2 linked regions of the Homo sapiens genome follow. The protein of the gene in region 2 interacts with the protein of the main gene of each other region in a pairwise test. Each region holds a gene or a part of one and is shown on either strand. Other genes may lie near its edges. The genes, in order: THAP12 and MAPKAPK3.

The links.
Region 1: the proteins of MAPKAPK3 (region 2) and THAP12 interact in a two-hybrid assay, tested with the Homo sapiens proteins (one study listed by BioGRID).

Annotation. Positions count from the first base shown.
Region 1 is NC_000011.10:76,349,634-76,357,512, forward strand, and holds the end of THAP12 (52 kDa repressor of the inhibitor of the protein kinase), read right to left. Parts: intron 6,022-7,879; coding exon 5,985-6,021; intron 3,162-5,984; coding exon 1,231-3,161; 3' UTR 323-1,230; downstream 1-322. UniProt on the Homo sapiens protein: Upstream regulator of interferon-induced serine/threonine protein kinase R (PKR). May block the PKR-inhibitory function of DNAJC3, resulting in restoration of kinase activity and suppression of cell growth.
Region 2 is NC_000003.12:50,619,818-50,627,696, forward strand, and holds part of MAPKAPK3 (MAP kinase-activated protein kinase 3), read left to right. Parts: intron 1-7,879. UniProt on the Homo sapiens protein: Stress-activated serine/threonine-protein kinase involved in cytokines production, endocytosis, cell migration, chromatin remodeling and transcriptional regulation.

The sequences.
Region 1 (7,879 bases), on a different chromosome or scaffold from region 2:
ACACCACTCTGGTTTCTGAAGCTCAAGTAACACTTACTCCCAACATAAAATAATTCATTAACACCTCTGCATTCATTTTAGCCAGCAACAATAAGACAAACTCTGACAATTTACATCAGGGCCCACACAGTACATTTAAAAAAAAAAAAAAACCTAGTTGGGTGAATCTTACATTTAACACTTTCTTAATTGTTTTTTTTCTGTAACCCAAGTAGTAAACCACATACAAAAGACTCACCTTGAATTGTGAAGCTGTTTATCAAATGTTTAAGAGAATTTACACAAGAATGTTTTGACCCCACAAAAAATAATGTGCCTAAGCTTTAAACAAAATTCACATTTTATTTAGATTGAAATAAACTATACAAAATTGATTTTCTTCACCAAAAATAACAGCAATATTTTCCATATTTTTCTAGATAAACCACAACACTTATTTTGTAGGTTTTCCAGGTTTTGCTTATAAATCAAGATGAGGCAGTATATAAGAGTCATGGAAAAAGACAGAGAAAAAAAACAGACAAATCAGTTGTCAGTATCCATGGCCTCTGATTCTGTCTCAACCATGAAACAGAAGTGTTCAACATATACCTGCTAAAAAGCTTAGGAAGATGTAGGCTCCACAAAGGAATGTAAACAGCAACGAGATGTGGAACAACAGCAGGCTTTTCCATTCAAACTTTGTCATTTGTTTCTTTAAGTTCAAGAAAGACAAAATCTACACTGAAATCCTTGTTTGGTGAGCTCACAAGCTTTTCTCCGGTAATTTCTTGTAACTGTCCAGTATAGATTTTTAACATACTTAAAACTCCTATTAGTCAAAGGTCAATTGTGGGCTTCACTACAACATTTTATAAAATGTATTCCTTCCTCCCACACCTCTTCAAAATATATTTCTTCAAAGAATTCATAACACCCAACAAGTAGAGATCCACAGTGATAATAAATGCTATGTCTAAAATGACTTAACTGAAACAATTCCAGAGTGCCATCAACAGAGATCACGCAAAAGGAAACATGGCACTTTCAACGTTCTCTTCTGGAAGAACAGGTAGGTCTTCAAAGCTTGAGAGTTCAAACAGGGGCCATTTAAACAGGTAGATTATCAATGGCTAATGTATTCAATGGAGTCCTATAGGCAAAGATATTTAGTGATTAAGTGGTCTACATACACCTTACGGCTTTTTCTTCCAAATATCAAATATAAGAAAGCCTATTTTTAAAAGTCTCTTAGGTATTTTCCACAGTTTCGGAATTATCTGTAGGAAGCTCTGACTTACTTGTATAGAGTTTAATATATGTGTCCACCATTAAATCCAGGTCGTGTTTTATATCAAAATTTATGTTAAGCAAAGCCAAGTTACTTGACCTTTGGTCTGTCAAAGTGTTCCTCAAATATGCTTTAAGACGCTTTCGTCCATTTTCATACCGCTCATTCTCAACCTTCATCACAGGAAGAATACACAGGACCTTCAGCAATGCATACACATTAGGAAAAAACTTGATGTCAGGCAGGTGGAGGGCTTCATAGATGGTGGACGGAAGCTCTATATCTTTCCCCCTGTGTTTCCATTTGATTCTCCAACAATGAAGCTCAGCTGACAGCGTGTCAGGATTGGGTAAGTCACTTCTATACATGTCAGCATGGTGTTCCTCCGACGTATTGAATTTGAGTTGTCCCATGACTGAGGGTACCAGAGATAAGCATTTAAGAGCTTTGAGGTGCTGTTCTGAGAATATATCTTTAAGTTCCTGAATAATGTGCTCCACTGTTGGGACACTTAGGGTTTCTTTATAGTAACTCTCAGAGGTTAGCTGAGATTCCAAGTTACCCTGGTGAGCTCTGCGGAATTTCCCAGGGAGTTTCATTTGAATATCAAGTTTGGTTGCCAAATTTGTGGCTTCCTCAAACCAAAATTCATGATAAACTTCAATATTTTCCATCACTTCGTTGAGTGAATGCAGTACTGCAGTCAAGCTACCGGCCGCAAAGAAGACATCAGAGGTTTGCCCCTGGAGGTTTTTCCCAAAGGCTCTTGTAAAAGATAGGACATTTTTAAGAACAACAATAGTAACAATGAAATCAAAATCTGACACTGCACTGCAGAGTACAAATGCTCGGCCAGCTATATAGTTATTCCATCTAATATTTGTGTCACTATTTATACCATCTAAACATAAAACAAGTGCTTGCAGGAGTTCCACTAAAATTTCAAAAGCATCATGCCTGCCTGTCCACTGAGAATGGCAGATTTCCTTCAGTTCTTTACCCCTTTCTTTACTGTTCTGAAAAAGAACAGAAATTACGTTGTCAAGTTCTAAAAGCAGTTGTGGTGATCGATGGAAAAAAGAACAAACTTCCTCAATTGTTCCTAATGCAACAGATACTCCCATAACAGGTACTGATTTTGCCAACCACATATTTAAGGCACAGGAAGAGCAGAGTGTGTAGATAGCTTGGGGATATTTCTCTAAAAGTCTAGAAGCAACAACTTTCATTTTGGAAGAAAATCCACTAGAGACAATGTAAGCCTGGCCACGACAATACTCCATATTTAATCCCCACTTCTCAGTTATCATAGTGTGAAATTTCACAGCCAAAATTTCTGCATCGGCTTCATAAGGCAGGAAGCCTATAAATTCCTCTCTTAGGTTATGAGATTCATCAACAAACCTCACCAACACAGGTAGGTGCTCTTCCCCTGCTATGTCCACTACATCGTCAGTGATAATGGAAAAGAAGTGTGAGTCTCTCACTTCCCTGAGAGTTTCTTCTCGAATACAGCTCTCACAGATCTCTAGCATCTGCCTCTGCTGTGTTTTTGAACAAAACAACGTGTTAACTGCTGTTGTCTCAAACCGCTTTCTCAGAACCTCTTCACCAGAATTTATCCGACACTCCAGCAGTGCCTGAAAGTTATCTGGAGTAAAGAGACCTTCTGGGATTTCATCAGCCTCATGTCCATCCAGAGGTATGTTTTGCTTTCCCATCAGAATCAAGATTTCAAATAGAGATTTTAGGTATTCTTTGTTTTCCTTCTCTTCAAGGGTTAGAGGTAAAATGTCCTCATCTTGCCCTTCACCCTCTTCTTCGCTGGGGTTCTGAGCATTGCTATTGTTGGTTTCTTTATGTTTTTGTTCCTGCTCAGAAGTTTCATCAACTGGAAAACAAAGAATTAATTTTACAAACAGGCTCATGAAAAACCATACACAACAAAAAATATTACATCTTTGGTTAAATATTTAAAATCCACAAACTCATTCATTCAATATTCATAGGGTATTTACTAGACCACAGACTAGGACAGAGATTAAAATAAGACACTAAGATAAGACACATCCTAGTGGGAGAGACAAACAGTGTAAAGAGATATATTTTAATCCTAGATGTAAATGCTGTTACAAGATAGGAATAATTTTTTTTTTTTAAGAAGTAGAGCGGGGAGTCTCACTATGTTGCCCAGGCTGGTCTTGAACTCCTGGCCTCAAGTGATCCTCCCACCTCAGCTCCAAAGTACAAGGATTAAAGGTGTGAGATACCACATCCGGCCTAATTTTTAAAATACACTTAACAAGACTTTCCACATATGTAATGAATGACAGTCCATGCCCTCAGAAAAACAAAGTGGGACAGAACTAATTACTAAGGTACTGTGCTTAGTATTTTATATGCATCACATTACTCTCTGTTCAGGCAGGTGGTATCGGCCCCACTTGACAAACAAGGACACTAAGTAACTTGCCCAAGATCACAAATACAGTTAGAAGAATGGAAGTAAAGTTGAAATCCAAGTGCGTCTGGCTCCAAGATCCATGCTGATGCTGTTTTTATCAAACCATTATGCCACACATTTATATGGGAGATGGGACAGCTGTACAAACCAGTATAATATAAAGGAGATTAATGTAACTCTTAGGGCTAGTATTAGAATATCACACATCTTAGCCTAATCTCTTCACAGGGGATAGGAAAACTGAGGCCCTACAGGCTAAATGCCCTGCCCATAGTCATACAGGTCAGTGGTGTCTGCAGGAAAATAATCCAAATCTGAGGAGGCACAGTTAAAACCTAGTTCTTAGAACATAAGACTAGGGCCGGGGGTGCAGTGGCTTACGCCTGTAATCCCAGCACTTTGGGAGGCTGAGGTGGGTGGATCACGAGGTCAGGAGTTTGAGACCAGCCTGGCCAATATGGTGAAACCCCATCTCTACTAAAAATACAAAAATTAGCTGGGCGTGGTGGCACATGCCTGTAGTCCCAGCTACTCGGGAGGCTGAGGCAGGACAATTGCCTGAACCCAGGAGGCAGAGGTTATAGTTAGCCGAGATCGTGCCACTGCACTCCAGCCTGGGCAACAGAGTGAGACTCCGTCTCAAAAAGAAAAAAGACTATGGAGGGCGGTGGGGAGAAACAAAAATTCAGAAGTTGCATTTGATGACAAGGATAAATAAGGGGGACATGAACAAGGAGGGCATTTCAGTTGGTGAGAATTATTCTAGCACAAGCACTAAGGTAGAAGAGGGAAGCAGGCTGCCCAAGTACAAAGGGAAATCTAGTCTGACCGGAGCCTGTGTGAGCCATGCTTCAGAGCTTCATAAGGGTTCAGAAAAATGCAGGGAGCATCCTTCCTTCACCCCTCCTCAAATCAGATGACACTGCTATTCATTATATGTGACACAGCAGTGGTTCTATACTAGGGAGGCTTCCCAAGCCAGAAAGCAAGAGGTTATCCTGGACGCCTGCCTGTCTGGCTCCCTCCCTCTCTCCTCCATTATTTCTCCACTTCCAATTAACAAGTACTAATTCTCTTGCTTTTATTTTTTTCAAAAAGAAGTTCATTAAAGAGCAAAGAGTTCAAACTGAAAAGTCAAGTCCCTCTTCTTTTGGACATCTTTTTAGGTGTCATAGGTATACAAATTTCTTAAGTTCCTTGAATCTATTCCCTTTACTCTCTCTACCATTGCCTTAATTCAAGGCCTTTCAACTTTTATTTGGTCAGTTGACAGTCTAACTAGCCTCCATGCCTCCAGTGTTACCTTTTCTAATCCAACAGAGTACTCTATGTACCATGGAAATCAGGTCCCTGTTATCACCTACTTATAAACCCCTCAGTGGTTCCCTATTGCTAATAGCCCACAAGTCTGCAAGTTCTGGCCTCTGGGGTCCTCTCTAGGCTATTTTCTAACCATAATGGGTTATCACAAACTTTAACAACACTAAAATGAGTGTAGTTCCCCAAAACAGCACCCTGTTTCGTGCACAGAATACCTTTCCCTCTCTTTGCCCAAGTCCATATCTCCTCATCCATAAAGAGGGAAATAACAGTACTTATCTCACGGCTATTGTGAGAATTAAATTAATTAATACAAGTAAAGCACTTAGAACAATGATTTGGCATCAGTAAGCACTCAATAAAATGCTACGTTAATAATAACAGCAATAGGAGGAAGAAACAGAGGAGGAGGAGTAACTAATAACTGACAAGAAGAAAAACAGCTTCTAGCCCTCGTCCTTTGGTGACATAATTCGGACATCAGCACCTCCAGAAAGGCTGTTGTGACCACTACTCACAATGGCACTATGTGCCCCCACAGCATTTAGTCCTTAAACATTTACAAAGAATTTATTACATACCACAACTGGGTGGACAGAAAAAGAGATTCAGTGCATGCCTCTACTGTTGCCCTTCCTTCCCTACAATGGAGCACTGTGTGCCTGCCACCCCTACCACACTGAGAGAGGAGGCGTCACCTCCATGAGGCCTGCATATAGCATAGTGTGTGGCATTGCAGCACTCAATAAAGACAAACTAAAATTAGACTTTAGTCTCATAGATAATTCCAAAACACAGGACAAAATTGAGCACACTCCTACATTCATTCTCAAGGTAGGTTTTCAACACAGAACATATTTATTTGTCCTTACCAGGTCAAGGCCTTTTTAAAAGGCATTCAGAAGTTGAGTCATTAACACTATCACTTACTTTTTTTCTGTTTCAGTGTCCTGATTTCATCTTCACTCTAAATGTCAAGAAAAAAAAAGAAAAAAACAAATCATCTTTAAAAAACTGACCTCTAGTGTATCATCTTAGACTCACAAATACAAATGCCTATTCTGAGTCAATTTAATTCTTTCAAGAGCATAAATTCTTTATATAGTACACATTCTTCAAACAAACAGACAATGAGAAAACCAGAATAAGCTGTTAATGACTCCAAGGTTATAACAAAGTCTTAGGGAAAAAAGAATACATCATTTTGCTTATTTTCTACCTAAATCATCGTAACTTTGGGTTATAAGTGTTTACTGGCTAATGAAAGGCACAAAAATACACCATGGCACTTGGAGTTAAATTCAAGAGGACACAAATCATCTTACTTCCCAATTTAACCCTGGAGATGTCCCATAAGAAGGAGGTTGCTGAATCTCAGGACTCAACACAAAAGTGATGAGAAATCCCTGAGAAGCAGAAGGTGAAAGTACCAGCATGGAAGAGATACACAGAGCATACACAGAGCATAGTAGGCCAAGTGGCACCAATAGGGTTAGACAAAGGAAGAACTTTCCAGCTGCATCCTTTACTTTCCTTCCAACCCTCTACAATGCTTAAATCATGAGCCACCTGTTACTTTCTGTGGCAGAAAAGCAGCAATGCCAGTGACAGCTGAAGACAGCAGGATGCCTGTTGGGCAGCACTGGACATGGTGCTGATAACAAGAAACATCAGCAGGCTGGTCAACCTGGACATCCCCTCCTTATCCTACGGACTGCACGTTTATAAGGATGGTGGGTCAGGAAGAGTATGCCTGCTGTGAGATATGTGAGGCTCTCTGAGGGACAGACTACAGGGAAATGATAGCTACAGGACAGCAAGTGATTGAGCTCCTCATCCTGATACATATTACACTTCATATCTATGGATTTAACCAACCATGCATTGAAAATGCTGGGGAAAAAATGGATGGTTGTATCTATCTTGAACATGTACAGACTTTTTTTCTCATTCTTCCCCTACATAACGTAGCATAACTATTTACATAGCATTTACATTGTAGTAGGTGTTACAAACACATAAATGTATTAAGTATCATAAATAATCTAGGTATTATTTGAAAATGGATGGTTGTGCCGGGCATGGTGGCTCACGTCTGTAATCCCAGCACTTTGGGAAGCTGAGGCGGGAGGATCACCTGAGGTCGGGAGTTCAAGACCAGCCTGACCAACATGGAGAACCCTCGTCTCTACTAAAAATACAAAAAGAGCCGGGCGTGGTGGCACATGCCTGTGATCCCAGCTACTCGGGGGGCTGAGGCAGGAGAATTGCTTGAACCCGGGAGGCGGAGGTTGCGGTGAGCTGAGATCGCACCCTTGCACTCCAGCCTGGGCAACAAGAGCGAGACTCTGTCTCAAAAAAAAAAAAAAGAAAAGGATGGTTGTGTCTATACTGAACACACAGATTTTTGTTCTTGTCATTATTCTCTAAACAATGTAACAGAACAACTATTTACATAGCACTACATTGTATTAGGTATTATAAATGATTTAAAGTCACGGGAGGATGTGTGTAAGTTATATGCAAATACTACACCACTGTATATAAGGGAATCAAGTATCTGTGGATTTTGCTCTCTGAGGGAAGCTCCTGGAATCAGTCCTCCATGGACACCAAGAAGAAAGCTGATATGGAGGACTGTAATGTAAGTGTCAGTATTCATCTAAGTCCCAGGAAAATAGAAATAAACAAATAGAGGGGAAAATGCATAAAGAAAAATAAAAACTAAGGATTTCTCAGAATTTAAGGTGTAAGTCCTCAGTTGTAAGATGACAAATTAAGGTACATAAAAAAAAAACTCACATCTAGATACAGGTTAGCAAATT
Region 2 (7,879 bases):
GGGGTAACTTCTGACTGCAAGAACTTCCACAGCACCTCATCAGTGCTCTCCTTGTTCTGGACTGGGAATTGGGTCAGGCCTGGAGTGGATTTCCCTCTGTACCCCTTTATGGGTGAGCATGGCTAAGGCTACTAGCTTGGGACCTTCAGGATCTGGCCCTAAATTGGCCCTCAAAGGGGACATGGATTAGATGTGGCTCCCACTCCAGGACCTTCCTGTTCTTAGTATCACTAGTGACCAAGCCTAGAAGTCCTTACCCAGCTAAGCAGGCATTTACTATCTCCCAATATTGGGCTAAGCACAACCTCTGGTACAGTTATTTTACCTGTCTTGTGAGTGGTAGCTGTGGCCACGAGGAGGAAGGTGACATCTCCCCACTTATAGCTTCTGCCCATTGCCCAGGAAGACCAGGACCTGGGGACCTCAGTACATGGGCAGGCCTGGGCCCAGGGAGCTTAGCCAGCTCATGATGGATCACAGTCCTCTCCTTGCATCTGCCTAGCCCTCTCCCCGCAGTTGCCCCAGCTCAGCCTAGGCAACAGTCGTGGGCTCTGTGTCTTTCTGCCTCCCTGGTGATGTACTCCAGGTTAACCAGGGTGGCCTGTCCTCATCTTATAACTTGACCTTGTTCAGGCCATCTCTGCCCATTTGTCTCATGCTCATCCTCTTGGCTCTGTTGCCCAAGATGGAAGATAGTGCTTAACAGGAAGCCTGAAACTCAGCAAACACTCATAAAACAGGAAGAGCTGTGGCCACTGTCCTTGTAACTGTTGCTATTCTGTGGAGGCCCTAGAGGAGCAGGTCCCTCCCTCCCAGGGAGCTGGGCCTCTTCCGCTTTCCCTTAGCCCCTGACCACCTGCTTGGTTCATCTTGGCCTCAGTCATACTCAGTGGCTCCCTCCCAAGGCTACCTTCTGCTGCCAGTGCAGCCATTCTACTCCATTGTACCCCAAGCCCTCATTGCTGTCCTCTTGGCAGGAACTGGAGGACTGCCTTTCTTGGAGAGGGTGTATGGGCCAGGCGGTCCTCCAGTGTCTGCTTCTCCTGCTGACCTCTTGCTTGTGCCCTCTCCCAGGCTTAACTAGTTAATTAGTACCTTCAGCTTTCCCTCTAACTGGGCACAGCCCTGCAGATTTGTCACACATCAGTTACCCCACCACATCCAAGATCCAGTCCTTCAAACTTTATCACATACATGAAAATTGGGACCCAAAGTGAGTCACACGGTTTGAAGTGGGGGGTGTAGCAGAGGCCCGAATTTTCTCCCCTCCTGACATCCTGCCCAGCCCTCTTGTGGTTTTTGGCCTCTTGGCAGGCAGAAGTGACCATGGCACTTAGTATCTCTAAATAAAAGCAATAGGCTGGGTGCGGTGGCTTGTGCCTGTAATCCCAGCACTTTGGGAGGCTGAGGCAGGAGGATCATTTGAGTCCAGGAGTTTAAGACCAGTCTTGGCAACATGGTAAGACCCTTATCTCTACACAAAATTTAAAAATTAGGGCTGGGTATGATGACTTATGCCTGTAATTCCAGCACTTTGGCTGAGGCGGGAGGATCACTTGAAGTCTGGAGCTCGAGACCAACCTGGCCAACCTGGCAAAACCTTGTCTCTACTAAAAATAAAAATACAAAAATTTGCTGGACACAGTGGCGGGCGCCTGTAATCCCAGCTACTGGGGAGACTGAGGCAGGAGAATCGCTTGAACCTGGGAGGCGGAGGTTGCAGTGAGCCGAGATCACGCCACTGCACTCCAGCCTGGGTGACAGAGTGAGGCTGTGTCTCAAAAAAAAAAAAAAAAAAAAAAAGTAGCCAGGTGTGGTGGCACACACCTGTAGTTCCAGCTACTCAAGAGGCTGAGGTGGAAAGATGATTGCTCGAGCCTAGGGGTTTGAGGCTGCAGTGAGCTGTGGTCATGCCACTGTACTCCAGCCTGGGTGACAGAGTGAGACCCATCTCAAAAATTGAAAGAAAGAAAAGCAATAAAAGGCCTTATGGAGACATAATGGTGGGGTCTTCTTTCCTGCCCCTGTGTTATGGACTGTGGGGCTGGGGGCTCTTCCCCTCTGACCCCTAAAGCATTTTGGAGGCTCTTCTAGGCTCCCAGTGCCCTCTTCTTCCCTTCTTTGTTAAGGAGAGTAGAGTGGTGGGGTGGTGGATCCACATGTCCAGGAGACCTCTGCAGAGTCCTCTGGGTCAAGTCTTTGTAGCAGCCATCTTCCTTCTGGTTCCCAGGATCTGGGGAGGTTGCTGGGGCTGCTGCCTCTGGGACAGTTTCCTTCCCCTTGATGCCAGTTGGCTTCCGTGAGCCAGGCTGCTCTGCATGTGGGATCTCAGTGATGCCTCAAAGCACAACACAGAAGAGGGCATATTTCTCCTGACAGATGGGAAACTAAGCTCTGGAGACCAGGAGGAGATCTCACAGGGATTTGAGATTACACAGGGATGCTGGGACTTGGCTGTGTATGTTCTGAGCCTCTAACTGTGGCATTCAAAGTCTCTGCAGTCCAGCCCACCTCCCTTTTCTACTTTAGGTGACATCTTTCCTTCTCCAGCACTGAAGAATTTCTTCTCATCTGTCAAGACTCAGCCCCAGTGCCACCTCTTCCAGGAAGCTGCCCAGAGTTCCTGGCTTTGGGGCAATGGAACCTTCTTTGACCCCTTTGATAATACTCCCCTTTGATTCAAAGCTCTTTTATAGCACCTAGGCCCAAGGCCTGGCATATATCAGAGATTCATGAATGCTTATGAAAATGACCAGGCTCTGGCCCCTCTGAGCTTTGGAAGGAGCATCAGGAGCTGGACTTTTTCCAGGTTGCACCTTCTCCACAGGAGAGGGGTTCTTTGATTACAGCTCAGAGATAAGCCACAGAGAAATGCTATTTCTACTCTCCTAAGATCTGGGAATTCACAATGGAATCTAACAGTTCCACTGCCTCAATAGACCTCATGGAGAATTCCTGGGAGAAAGGAAATGCCCATTCATGAGGCCATTTCTGCTCCCTGCCTGCTGTCCAGGCTGCACCTCTGAGTAGACAGAGGGGCTCTGTATAACCAGAATGCCAAAAGGAAGATAGAACATGATGGATGCAGAGACTGGGAAGCAATGGATCCAGAGCCCAGTACCCTGGATGCCTCACTCTCCCTGGGGGGATGGTGCCCACTGCTCCAAGGGTGAGGCTGGCCTGTTGGGGCTGGTACTGTTGAGCTGGATTTGAAGCCAGGTGAAGCTGCCAGGCAGGCCAGGCCCTTTTTCATTTGGCAGCCATCATCCCCTCACCTACCATCTCCAGACCGGTCAGATCAGCCTCTGCAGGGCCACTTGTTAGAGTCAACAAATCAGGAGGCACATGGAGGGACTATGCAGCCGGTACAATAGAGTCCCTGGAAATAGTTTCACTGCCCCCTGGGTTCTCCCAACGCTGCTCCTTACCTAGAAGGAAAGAATCTGAGGAGCCAGAGTGTTAACTGCCAGGGATGAGCAATTTGCTTTTTCATGAAGATCCTGGGGAGGGCATCAAACCCTACAAAATGCAAATAGTGGAATTTTAGGCAGAGGTTGATTGTTCTGAGATGGTTCGTACCGTGCCTGGCTGGCCTTGCTTACTGTTTTCGAAGCTGTGCTCCCAGCCTACTCTCAGGATCACCTCTGCTGGGGCTTCTAGGATCTTTTCCCATCCCATCTAGGAACTGATGCCAGCTCTCCAGGATTCAGGCCTTGGTGCTGTGGATTCTGATACCCCCATAAACGGCTAACAGTTTTTCAGAGCATTCTGCCCAGCGGGCCCTGTCCACAGTGCACAACAAGGCACAGAATGAGTTGTCTTACCTAACTCTTATCACTCCCATTATATGGATGAGGTTCAGAGGTCAGCAGCTTGCCCAAAGTGCTCAACTAGTGGGTAGCAGGGCTGAGCTGTGAGCCTAGGCAGTTTGATGCCAGAGTCCTAGCATCTAAGTCATCTCACTCCTCATGCAAGTCTGTGGGGACACGGGAGGGTCTCTGAGACTTGGTCCTTGGAAAGATGCTGGCATTGTCCTCTCTGGCTCCACTGGGAGCCCTGGCAGCCCCAGCTGGGCCCTGAGTGATGCTGCCAGTGTCTACCTACATCTGCTCAGTCCTCCTCACTGTATGGAACTCTGTGCCAGTGATTGGACAGGTGGCAGTCCCATGAGGCCAGCACACAAGGACCATGATGACTGTGAAGGCCACCTCAGAAAGGTCGTGTGCCTTTTCCCAGGCCTTGTGAGTCTCAGACAAGTGCAGCTGGGCAGAGCCCAGAGCACCACGGGCAGGAAATCAGACTGGTGAGTGGGCGAGTGGAAACTGTATCTGGGCTGGGCCAGCTAGGAGAGGCTTCCTGGAAGAGGTTGCCAGTTTAATTCAGACCTCTGGTTTGAGAAGGATGTGGATGACAGAGGAAGGCACAGGGTGTATGTGTGTGCCTGTGTGTGTGTGCACTCACGTGTGTGTGTGTGTGTGTGTATGTGTATGTGTGTGTGCATGTGTGTGACAATATGCCTGGTTTAGACATTCAGCACCTGCTGTGGAGTACCAGTTTCCCACTCGCAGACCTGTGTTCTGGCAGGATGTGGTTGACCTCAGCAGGGCCGGTGTCAAAGTCCTGACAAAGACTGGGAAGCTGAGGGAGGACCAGAGGAATCTGTGGAGGAAGAGGCGTTTGTGTAGGGCCTTGAAGGGTAGAGCACCATTGCTGAGGGTGCTGCAGGGACTCCTGGGTCACTTGGGCTGTTGTTCAGACTATATGGGAAGGACTCAGTTTTCATTACAACAGAGGTCTGTTGTATCTCTTCTGAGCTTCACACCTGGGGAAGTGGAGTTAGATCCCTCATTTTCCTCTGCTGGGGACATCATCATGGAAGATCTCTGGGTGGAGGCAGTAGTTGGAACATCTGGCTCTGTAAGCCCGCAACCTCCCTTGGCTCCAGGCTGCCATGTCTAATGGTGAAGGCCCATGGGCAAGAGCTGAGGACATCCCTAGGTGAGAGGCATTCCAAGCATACCTGTGCCATGAGAGTGTGCACAAAGCGCTTCCTGGAGAGCTGGCTCTGCTGCTCTCAGGACAGTGAGACCATGGCTCCTGTGAGCACTGGTGTTTTCCCTGGAGAACATTAGTTCTACTGCTCTCCCTCCATCTATTGGACATCTTGTGTGGTCCCAGATGAAAGGCCCCATCTTGGGGTTGAGAGAGGAACAGTGCTCTCGGCTTAAAATGCTTTCTGTGACATTCTCCCCAAGTGACTTTGGACTAAAGGCAGTTTCATAATCTTTTGCAAAACCATCATCTTTGTGGTGCAGTTGAACCCTGGGTTTGAATATGTGGTGGGGAGTAGGATCCAGTCTCGGTGACTGTTACTATCCCTGCATTCATGCTATGAGACAACATAGGCCGGCAGACACTCAGAAGGCAGGGCTCTCATTTGGGGTGGCCTGGGTGCATTTGCTGGTGAAACATTATTGGTTTTTATGAGGACTCACTTGGGTGCGCCCTGCACCTGGGGAACCCAGCCCCTTGAGGGACAGGAAAGAATGGCGTGAAGGGAGCTCTGGGTCCTGGGCTCCTCCCCACCCTCCTGCCCGTTTGGAACTAAGTGGATTAGGCCCTGTGCAATTGTGATTAAAATCCTGCTGTGTGGGAACCGTGGAGGTTTGGCTTAGAGCAGGAACACGAGGCTCCCGTTTGGGGAACAAGGAGCCTCAGGAGGCCCTTTCAGCACTAGACAGGCCAGAGATGCTGAAAAGATTGCTTTTGTTTTTGAGGCGGGTTTGGGATTAGGGTTGCCTTTTTCTTTAGACTAGGGCTTTGTCTTTGCTGCCTTCTCCTCATGGCACTAGCGATCTTTCTGTCCTCTGCCTCCTCGTCCCTCTCATTTCTCCTTTTCCACCTGTTTCTCCTGCTATCGCTCTGTCCCCGCTCTCCCGGGCCTTGCCAGTTTGCCTGTCTCGTGTGTTTCAGGCCTCATGGCCTCTTTTCTGCAGCCTGGCAGGCTGAGGGCAGGCGGAGGACAGAGCAGGGCCAGGTCAGGTGCTAAGGACTCATCCTGGTCAGCGGGCAGCTCACTCCCCCACCCCCACCCCAGGGGAGGGTGGGGGTGGGGAAGGAAGGAGGAGTGAGTGCTGTACCCATGCCACTCACAGTGTCCCCTCCTGCTGCCCGCCTTGACCAGGTGTCAGCAGCCTTGGCAGTCAGAACAGTGGACTCAGGAGTTCTTGGGCTGAGCTGTAACCTGAGGAGGTCCCCCGCCACCCCCCCATGGCTTGTGTGAAGTCAACTTCAGCTGCAGTCTCTGCTGTTGGGTCTCCTTTTACGGCCCAATGGTCTGAGACTTTTGCTTGGGACAATTGTGTGGGACTAGGCACAGTACGACCCCCAAGGGTTCCCTAGCCACAGTGAGGTATAGACAGGGCTGAGATCTGACCTGAGTCAGAGCCTTAGAGCCAGCCAGAGGAGCTGGTGGGAGTCTGGGAGGGCTCAAGGTATGAGGTGCAACCTACCGCCATTTTTACAGAGGGCAGAGCTGAGTGTGAGCTGCACCTGCACTAGCTGGTGTGAACACTCAAGACTCTCTAGCTGGCACCCTGCACCTGACCACCCTTGCCCTGCTAAGGCTCAGAGGCTACATTCAGGGGCCTGAGGGACCAGGACCTTGAGCTGCCACACTCATTTCCCCATTCTTAAGGGTTCAGCCTCCACAAGAGACCCATAGCTCATCCACAGATGCTCACCCAACATTAACAGCCCCCTTCTCAGGATGTGGTAGAAGGACTGGCAGGTGTTCTCCGTGCTTTCTGGCAGGCAGTGGCACAGGGGGCAGGGGGATGGCAATAAGGGCACCCACTTGCTGAGTGCCTCCTACATGTCAGGCACAAACACTGCAGAATCAGAATGGATTATCACGCCCATGCCATGGATGCAGAGACAGGTTCAGAAAGGCAGAGTAACTCACCCAGGGTCACGTAGTATGGACATGGCCCTGTGCTGGAACCCAGGCCTGGCTCTCAGCCATTCCTCTCTGCGTGTGTGCTCCTCTGGGGATCAGGAGCCACAGTCTGCTCATCAGCAAAATGAGAGCCTGGGCCGGGCGCAGTGGCTCATGCCTGTAATCCCAGCACTTTGGGAGGCTGACGCGGGTGGATCACCTGAAGTCAGGAGTTCGAGATCAGCGTGGTGAAACCCCGTCTCTACTAAAAATAGAAAAATTAGCTGGGTGAGGTGGCACATGCTTGTAATACCAGCTACTTGAGAGGCTGAGGCAGGAGAATCACTTGAACCCGGGAAATGGAGGTTGCAGTGAGCTGAGATTGCGCCATTGCACTCTAGCCTGGGAGTCAAGAGTAAAACTCCATCTCAAAAAAAAAAAAAAAAAAAAAATGAGGGCCTGGGTGCTCTGCTTGGCAAAGGCCTCCCTTTTGGCTGTGAAGACATGTTAGGTGGGCAATGATCATCGGCAGTGCCAGGGAAGCAGGCAGGTCGTGGGGGCCTGCCTTGCCCACTGCTGGTGCTGATCTTGCAAGTAGACAGACAGCATAGAGACTGGTCAGAGGGTGCCCCAGGATGCCTCTCCCACACCAGTCAGCAAATGGTGTTGTCAGGGGAACATTTGGCTATGGTGATGCCACCAGCAAGGGCTATATTCTGCCAGGGTCAGGAGCTCTGAGGGTTATGACTCAGGTTTGGAGACCCCTTCCGCTGTACTTCATGGACTAATTAAGTGCTTGAGTCAGGCTGAGCCAGTACCAGGGTGTGTCCTTACCCTAGGCAGGCCCAGGAGAGGGGGAGTGAGTCACTGCCGCCTAGTCTCGTGGCAGGAACAGGCAGTGTCCCTCAGAGCTGCCAGGCCACCACCCTGGTCCCCTAGAGG